Homo sapiens: one gene and its partner. Each later gene encodes a partner of the first gene's protein in a complex. Each region holds a gene or a part of one and is shown on either strand. Other genes may lie near its edges. The genes, in order: NPFFR1 and GNAI1. A codon is read from its position in the direction of its gene.

What was found.
Region 2: the proteins of NPFFR1 (region 1) and GNAI1 are in contact, whole or in part, in a cryo-EM structure (PDB 9M0R), measured with the Homo sapiens proteins. Residues at the interface, in NP_071429.1 of Homo sapiens: Thr78 (codon at 2,896), Arg141, Cys144, Ile145, Pro148, Phe149, Leu243, Arg264, Arg265, Val268, Met271, Leu272, Phe332, Asn333, Glu334, Asn335; in NP_002060.4 of Homo sapiens: Ala31, Arg32, Asp341, Ile344, Asn347, Leu348, Lys349, Asp350, Cys351, Gly352, Leu353, Phe354.

The regions. Positions count from the first base shown.
Region 1 is NC_000010.11:70,263,272-70,267,285, forward strand, and holds part of NPFFR1 (neuropeptide FF receptor 1), read right to left. Parts: intron 3,121-4,014; coding exon 2,806-3,120; intron 1-2,805. UniProt on the Homo sapiens protein: Receptor for NPAF (A-18-F-amide) and NPFF (F-8-F-amide) neuropeptides, also known as morphine-modulating peptides. Can also be activated by a variety of naturally occurring or synthetic FMRF-amide like ligands.
Region 2 is NC_000007.14:80,211,202-80,214,830, forward strand, and holds part of GNAI1 (guanine nucleotide-binding protein G(i) subunit alpha-1), read left to right. Parts: intron 1-1,514; coding exon 1,515-1,668; intron 1,669-3,629. UniProt on the Homo sapiens protein: Guanine nucleotide-binding proteins (G proteins) function as transducers downstream of G protein-coupled receptors (GPCRs) in numerous signaling cascades.

The DNA of each region.
Region 1 (4,014 bases):
ATGTAAAACATGCACACATTCACAGCATATTTTCTTTTTTCACCCAGGCTGGAGTGCAGTGGCGTGATCTCGCTCATTGCAAGCTCTGCCTCCTGGGTTCACGCCATTCTCCTGCCTCACCCTCCCGAGTAGCTGGGACTACAGGCACCCACGACCACGCCCGGCTAATTTTTTGTATTTTTTAGTAGAGATGGGGTTTCACCATTTTAGCCAGGATGGTCTCGATCTCCTGACCTTGTCATCCACCCGCCTTGGCCTCCCAAAGTGCTGGGATTACAGGCATGAGCCACCGCGCCCGGCCATTCACAGCACATTTTCTGAGAATGCATACAAAAGACAGAAATATAACAGAATGGCTGCCTATGGGTCAGAGAAGAGATGTAGAGTGGAATAGGTATATAGAAGGAAACAAATAAACAAAAGAAGAGCTTTGCAACAGAGTGAAATCACATAGTGCCATGAACTGTAAACTGAATGAATGATTCAACCTTCTGTATGTGAGTTAAAAAAAAAACAAAACCAACACAAAACAAAACAAAAAGAAAGAAAGGAAGAAAAAGCTGGGCATGGTGCCTCACTCCTGTAATCCCAGCACTTTGGGAGGCTGAGGCGGGCAGATGGCTTGAACCCAGGAGTTTGAGACAAGCCTGGGTAACATGACAAAACTCCATCTCTACAAAAAATAGAAAAATTAGCCATTGGTGGTGGCACATGCCTGTAGTCCCAGGACCTGGGCCCAGGCAGGTTGAGACTGCAGTAAGCCATGATCGTGCACTGCGCTCCAGCCTGGATGACAGAGTGAGACTGTCTCAAAAAAAAGAGGCCGGTGTGGTGGTTCATGCCTGTAATCCCAGCACTTTGGGAGGCCGAGGCAGGCAGGTCACTTGAGATCAAGAGTTCAAAACCAGACTGGCTAACATGGTGAAACCCCATCTCTACTAAAAATACAAAAATTAGCTGGGTGTGGTGGCAGAAGCCTGTAATCCTAGCCACTCGGGAGGCTGAGGCAGGAGAATCACTTCAACCTGGGAGGCGGAGGTTGCAGTGAGCCGAGATCCCAGCACTGCATTCCAGCCCGGGTGACAGTGAGACTCCAAAAAAAAAAAAAAAAAAAAAAAAGAAAGAAAAAATAGTGAAGCTGTGTGAAGTTTTATTTAATTGCAGAAGATTCTATTAGAAACAACATAAATACAAATCAAAATAAATTGTAGTACATCCATACAATGGAATTCTAAGCAGTTGGTGAAAATAGTGAGAAACTCTTTTATTTATTAATATGGGATAACAACATGTAAGTTTATTTTAATGAATCTTTTTTACAGCATACATGGTATATTTTTAAGTGGGGTGTGGTGGGAAGTAAAAGTACGGGACTGGCTGTTTGGAACCTTAGCATGTCCTCAATTTGCTTGCACTCGCATAAAATAGTGTTTGAAAGAGACACAAGAAACTGGCAACACTGGTTGCCTCCCAGGAGGGAGAAGAGCTGGGAGGCCAGAGGACAGGGGCGGAAGGGAGATTTTTCACTGGAGAATTTTGGTAGTTTTTGACTATTGAATCATCTGAATGTTTTATGTATTCAAACAATATTTTAAATATGAGTGTATGAAAAAGATGGGGAGACGCCACCTTAACCAGCTAGTGACCTCATTATATCACTGTTGACTGGTATGCATGTATTTATGTGTATGCATGTGTGCATCTCTGCACATGTGTGCCTGAGTACACGTGTGTGTGTCTATGTGTTGGAAAGGAGAGGAATGCAGTTTATGTTCAGCATTGGCAAAGGAAGCTGGGACTCAGCAGTGGGTAACGGTTCCACCAGACAGAGCTGGTACTGTGGAGGGGAGCTGACTCTGCACTGGCTCCACATCCTGGGTCCTAGAACCTACAGAAACGTGGGCTGTGGCTCCCTCTGCCCCGAGTCAGTGAAGTCACTCTGAATAGGGCTGTCCAGGCTCTGGATCCTGAGGACCAGTGAGCTGCTGGGAGCTCTGAGCTCAGAATCTGCAGGCTCAGACCTCTAGGGGTCTCCATATCTCTGAAAACCAGTCCCTCACCTGGAGTCTCAGGTTGGTGGAAACTTGATTCTAAAACAAGAAAGGCCAGTCGCATGAGAGAGTAGAGAGTAGATGGCACTGTTCTGACATCTGCAGGATGCACCGGCAGGAATTTAGAGGTCAAGTGGTCCACTGAGTGGCCGGCCAGTCCCTGCTTAGACACTCCAAGGGACAGAGAGCTCATTACTTACAGGCAGGACTCTCTTCTGTGCCCTGCTCAATTTCCAGCTCAAATGAGTGGAGTTTTCGTTCCCGATTCAGAGGAAACCTGCCTCCCTTCCACTTCTCCCCACTGGCTCTAATTCTGCCCATGCGAGCTCCGTGAGAGAGTGGGACTGAATGGTATAATACAATAATTAGAAGTATGGGTGTGAGAATGTTGACCTTGACACCTATTAGCTGTGTAACTACAGACCAGTTTCTTAACCACTCCGAGCATGTTTCCTCTTCCATAAAATGGGGAGGACCATAAACTCTACTTCACTGGATTGTTGTGAGGATGAATTAAGATAATGCATGAGAAGTAACATCATGCCAGGCACAAAGAAAACAGGAAATTCATTAAATCTCTTATTTCTAGTCTAACTCTTCAGCCCCAAGACTGTCTTGAGAGTTCGAGACCACGGCATGGCCAAGAGGCCAGCCCAGCAATGATATCTGTCTTCTAAGCTTTGATTTCCAGCCTTATCTGAGAAGTTGAAGTGGGGGGTAGGGGACACTCCTGCTGCCAACTGCCCGCACTCACCAGTGATGAGGTTGTCCACAAGGGTGGTGGGCATGCAGAAGATGCCCACCAGCAGGTCACTGACAGCCAGGTTGAGGATGAACATGTTGGTGACAGTATGCATGTGCCGGTTCTTGAGCACGATGAAACAGACCAGGGTGTTGCCCACCATGCAGAGCAGGAAGATGAGCGCATAGGCCACAATGAACATGGCCGCCACAGGGGAGGTGTGCTGATAGTAGGAGGAGAAGGTGAGGTTTGTAGCCGGGGTGGCCTCAGTGTTAGTCCCATTCTGACTTAGGGGCCAACTGCTGTTGGGAGGCTGGGAGGGCTCCCCTAGGACCAAAGGAATATATTGGTCAGGACCTTAGGCAAAGAAGAGATTACCGATTTCTCACCACTAATGAGACCCTCTGTGTGCCAAACCTTAACCATGCCCTGGTCCCCCAAGCATGTCCCCAGCTCCAGTTGCAACTTGATGCACTGATCCAAGACTTTCAGCCTACAACCACTCAAACCCTGGTCTTGTACTTCATGCCCTGTCTTGCCCATAACTCATTCTCCAATGTTGGTTTTTCTTTATTAACTCCCCCATCCCATTTAGGTTCCAACTTTCTTGGCCCTCCTGTGTGCCCCAGAGGCTAACCTCTAAGTTCTGCATTGCCCTGGTTCCCTTGTCTTCTGGCTTCTAGCTGGGTTCAGCCAATGCCAGGCCCTGAAGGAGATGGGAGGGCAGGAGCAGAGAGAGAGGTCAGGGTGTTTGTCTTCTGATTCCCTTCCTGCCTGGCCCAATTCTTTCAGCAGCTGTTTTTCCCTATAGCCACAGCCTGCTCCTATTGGGTGAGTCCCCTTTCATGGCTCTAGCCCTCACCTGACTACAGTAACACTCTTCCCTCTCCTTGCACTCAATGGTAACAGCTTCCTGTGGTTGTGAGTCCCTGGGTGCTTCACCGTTTCTGGCTGGTTCTCTTAACCCTCTCTTCTTCCATTAAACTCTGTTCAGTTAAACCCTTTCTGAGTGCACCATTTGTTTTCTGCTGGGACCCAATTATTATACCCTCAAACTCTTTGATGTCGTTCCCCTTCATCTCCTCCATGGAACTTTAGTTGAGAAAGGCAAGAAGGCAGTAGAGAAAGGGAGAATGAAGGGGAACTGTGAACCAGGGCTAAGGAGAAGAGGCACATCACATTCAGCAGAACATCCAAAGCAGGGGCTCCTGCTCAACCTTT
Region 2 (3,629 bases), on another chromosome or scaffold:
TTCCTCTAACTTTTCTATTTGATAAAAGAGAGATATACTAGAGAAGCACAGGTGGATCTTGAGGAAAAGGAAAACATGGAGAGTCAATCTCACCTCAAGCCTGTAAGCTTAACTATGCATTTCTGTATCTAATATCAACATAGCACATGGAAATATAGTTACATAGTAGTCCAAGATTCCCTTTTCTTAATTTGTTACTTCTGTTAGTTTAGTAAATCTTTTTTTTTTTTTTTTTGAGACGGAGTCTCGCCCTGTTGCCAGACTGGAGTGCAGTGGCACCATCTCTGCTCACTGCAACCTCCACCTCCCAGGTTCAAGCCAGTTCTCCTGCCTCAGCCTCCCAAGTAGCTGGGATTACAGGCACGTGCCACCACACCCAGCTGATTTTTGTATTTTTAGTAGAAATGGGGTTTCACCATGTTGGCCAGGTTGGTCAGAAACTCCTGACCTCAGATGAGCCACCCATCTCGGCCTCCCAAAGTGCTGGGATTACAGGCCTGAGCCACCGCACCCAGCCGGTAAATCTTTAATATATGTTATGCTTTGTTGCTGCCCTGTAATTTTCAGATAGGTTTCAGTGTACCATTAATATGGGGGAAATGTTTTTAAATAGAAATGTAAAACTTTGTCATTTTAAGTTAACTTTATTACAAAGTGGGGGAAAAAGTAGAAATGTCGGTTTTGTTCAGTTGACCCTTGAACAACGGGTTTAAGCTGCATGGGTCCACATATATGAAAATTTTTTTCAACCAAGCACATTCATGGGATGCAAAACCTGAGTATACAGAAAGCCACTTTTTCCTATGTGTGGGTTCCACAGAACTGCCTGCTGGACTTGAGTGTATGCACATTTTGGTACCCTTGGAGGTCTTTGTACTAATCCCCCTGAGTATACCGAGAGACGATTGTATTTTTAAAATCAAGTATATGAAATTATAGTGTAGTAGGTGCAGTGCAACACCACATGTTCATTTCTTTCATTTCAGCACTATAAAATGTATCAGTGCCCTCTTTGATGAGCACAGATCCTGGAAGGTCAAGAAACAGGAATTGGAAGTGTCCTTCCAGTATTTATATTTATTATAATATTTAGAGTATTGGGCTAATTGGGTCTTAGCTTGTTCAATTTAAGTTATTAATCTTTAAAAACCTCTATTTATCTTCTAATGGAAATTTAGATGAAATGAACTCTATGACAATGTCATTTCTTTTCACATGTTCACACTTCACATCCCTAGATTATAATGTCCTGTAGCAGGATATTCCCTGGCACAGAGCATGACATATAGTGGGCACTTGGCAAGTAAAAGTTGAATGCAAAAAGTGGTGAAAGATGATTAGACACTTCTCTTACCTAAAGTGAAAGTGTGTTCTGAAATGGCAGAAATGTATTTTTGTGATACGTATTTTTCAATCACTAAACTCTGTTTTATTACAACACCTTTTATTTTTTAAAATAGTCCTCAAAAATCCTTGCTGTTAGTGACGATTGGTTTTATTTTTTTCTATTACAGAACCGAATGCATGAAAGCATGAAATTGTTTGACAGCATATGTAACAACAAGTGGTTTACAGATACATCCATTATACTTTTTCTAAACAAGAAGGATCTCTTTGAAGAAAAAATCAAAAAGAGCCCTCTCACTATATGCTATCCAGAATATGCAGGTATTTTCCTTTTCTGGGAATAACTTGTCAAGTTACATATTTCTAAGTGAAACTTCCCCTAAGGCAAGAATTCAGTTGTTAATTTAAATCTCTTGGCTTAGTGATTCTTAGACCTTTAAGGGGTATTATTTATCAAACTGCAGTTGAGCATAAAAATTTCCTTAAGATGTAGATGAAATTACTGAAAATAATGTATTCATTTTATGGAAAAGCAGTTAGATAATTTTTAGTGATGACTCCAAGTTAAAATACTATTTTTTAAATCCAGTTAACAGATTTCATATCAGGTACTGTGTGATGTACAATAAATAAGACATGTCTCTGCCCACCATCTAATCTGAAAGACAGACATACTTAAACAACAGGCAATAGCAGTGCAACCTACTGCTAAAATAAGGAACATGAACATTATAGTAAGGGGAAATGAAGACAGGATCATTGAGGCAGCTAACTCTTCCAGAAGGGCAGGGAAGGTTTCACAAGAAGCCAAAACTTTGGTAATGAGACTGTTAATAGTGCTTTAATTTTACTATGATGGAAAATTCCCTGGAGTGAGGAAAGTAGACCTGAAGTACAGTCCTGACTTTTCCATAATTAGCTCTTTGATCTTGAACAAGGCAGTTAGTTCACCTAGGTCTCAGTATTCCATCTGTGAAGTCAGGAGTTGGGCTAAAACATTAGTTTTAGTTTAATTTAGTTCCTTGGAGCACCTCCTGGGTTGCTGTTGAAGGCGGAAATGGGAGAGGGAACAGAGCTAATTACTGCCCCCTGCACCCACCACCTTATAACTTTTTCATTAAAGCAGAGTAACTCAGCTTTCATCTGGTTTATGTATTGAGTAAAGTTTTACTTTAGTGAAGAGCATTCAGTATGCCTTAAAAAAACAGGGAGTTTGATTACCACTGGTTTATGTAATCTCCAAATCTAGATAGTTTGAAGAGTTTAGTTATTTACCCTCACCCCACTCTTCCTGTTTTTTTTTTTAAAAGTCTCAAGAATTTGTTTTTTTATAAACAGAATTTTCCTCAGTCTTGTGTTGAGTAAATTGTACGATGAGTATTCACTGCCATTTTACAGGAAATGTTAAGACAACCCTGTGATGTCAGTGCTCAGGTATCCCTACCCATACAAATGAGAATACCGGGGCTTCCTGAAGCCAGAGTCCAGTTCCAGACCCAAGTCCATTGTCCTCCTGCTCCTAGACCATGAACGACTAGGCTACATTTAATTAAACATTCAGTGGAACCAAAAGGGGAGGGTTCTTTGGTAAATATAATCATGTTACTTATAGCTCTTTTTGTGTACGGTGAAATTACACTTCAGTTCAAACTAATTTCACACATTTACTTACTTTAAAACTTTGCTTTCTTTTTGAAAGTCAAAGTCCTAAATCACTGTATTCAGCAACATTTTTTTGTGCTTATTAGAAATAAGCTACCCAGAGTCAAGATGGCTTAATTTTTCCCTTATTTGAATATATTTTTCAGTTTATTTTTATCATATTCTATGATGTAGCCATTTTGTACTAATTCATAGTACCAGATTCCCCAAGTGAATCCATAAATATTGTATACCTACGGGGATTTTAGAGCAACTAAGAATATACTTGTTAGCTCTTTCCTTGCCAAGTAGACAGTGTGTTTAGGAATTTTTGCTTGTGTTTTGCTTAAGTTAATAAGAATACCTGACTTCAGAATCTTTGCACAAAAAGAATATTACATAATTCTTTCACATCCCCAGAGTTAAGATTATTGTTTAAGATCTCCATGGCATGCCCAAAGTATTGATTCAGTTGCTTCTTGCTTCAGCCGCAACTCTCAATTTCCTGTGGCTGTGGAAGAACCCTGTGTAGCCCCTAAACAACTCACTTGATTTATCTCCTGTCTGTCTGCTCCTGTGTTACCCTTCTCCTCCTCTTCTTTTTCCTGTATGTTGCCACTTCACCAGTTTCATCTGCAGTC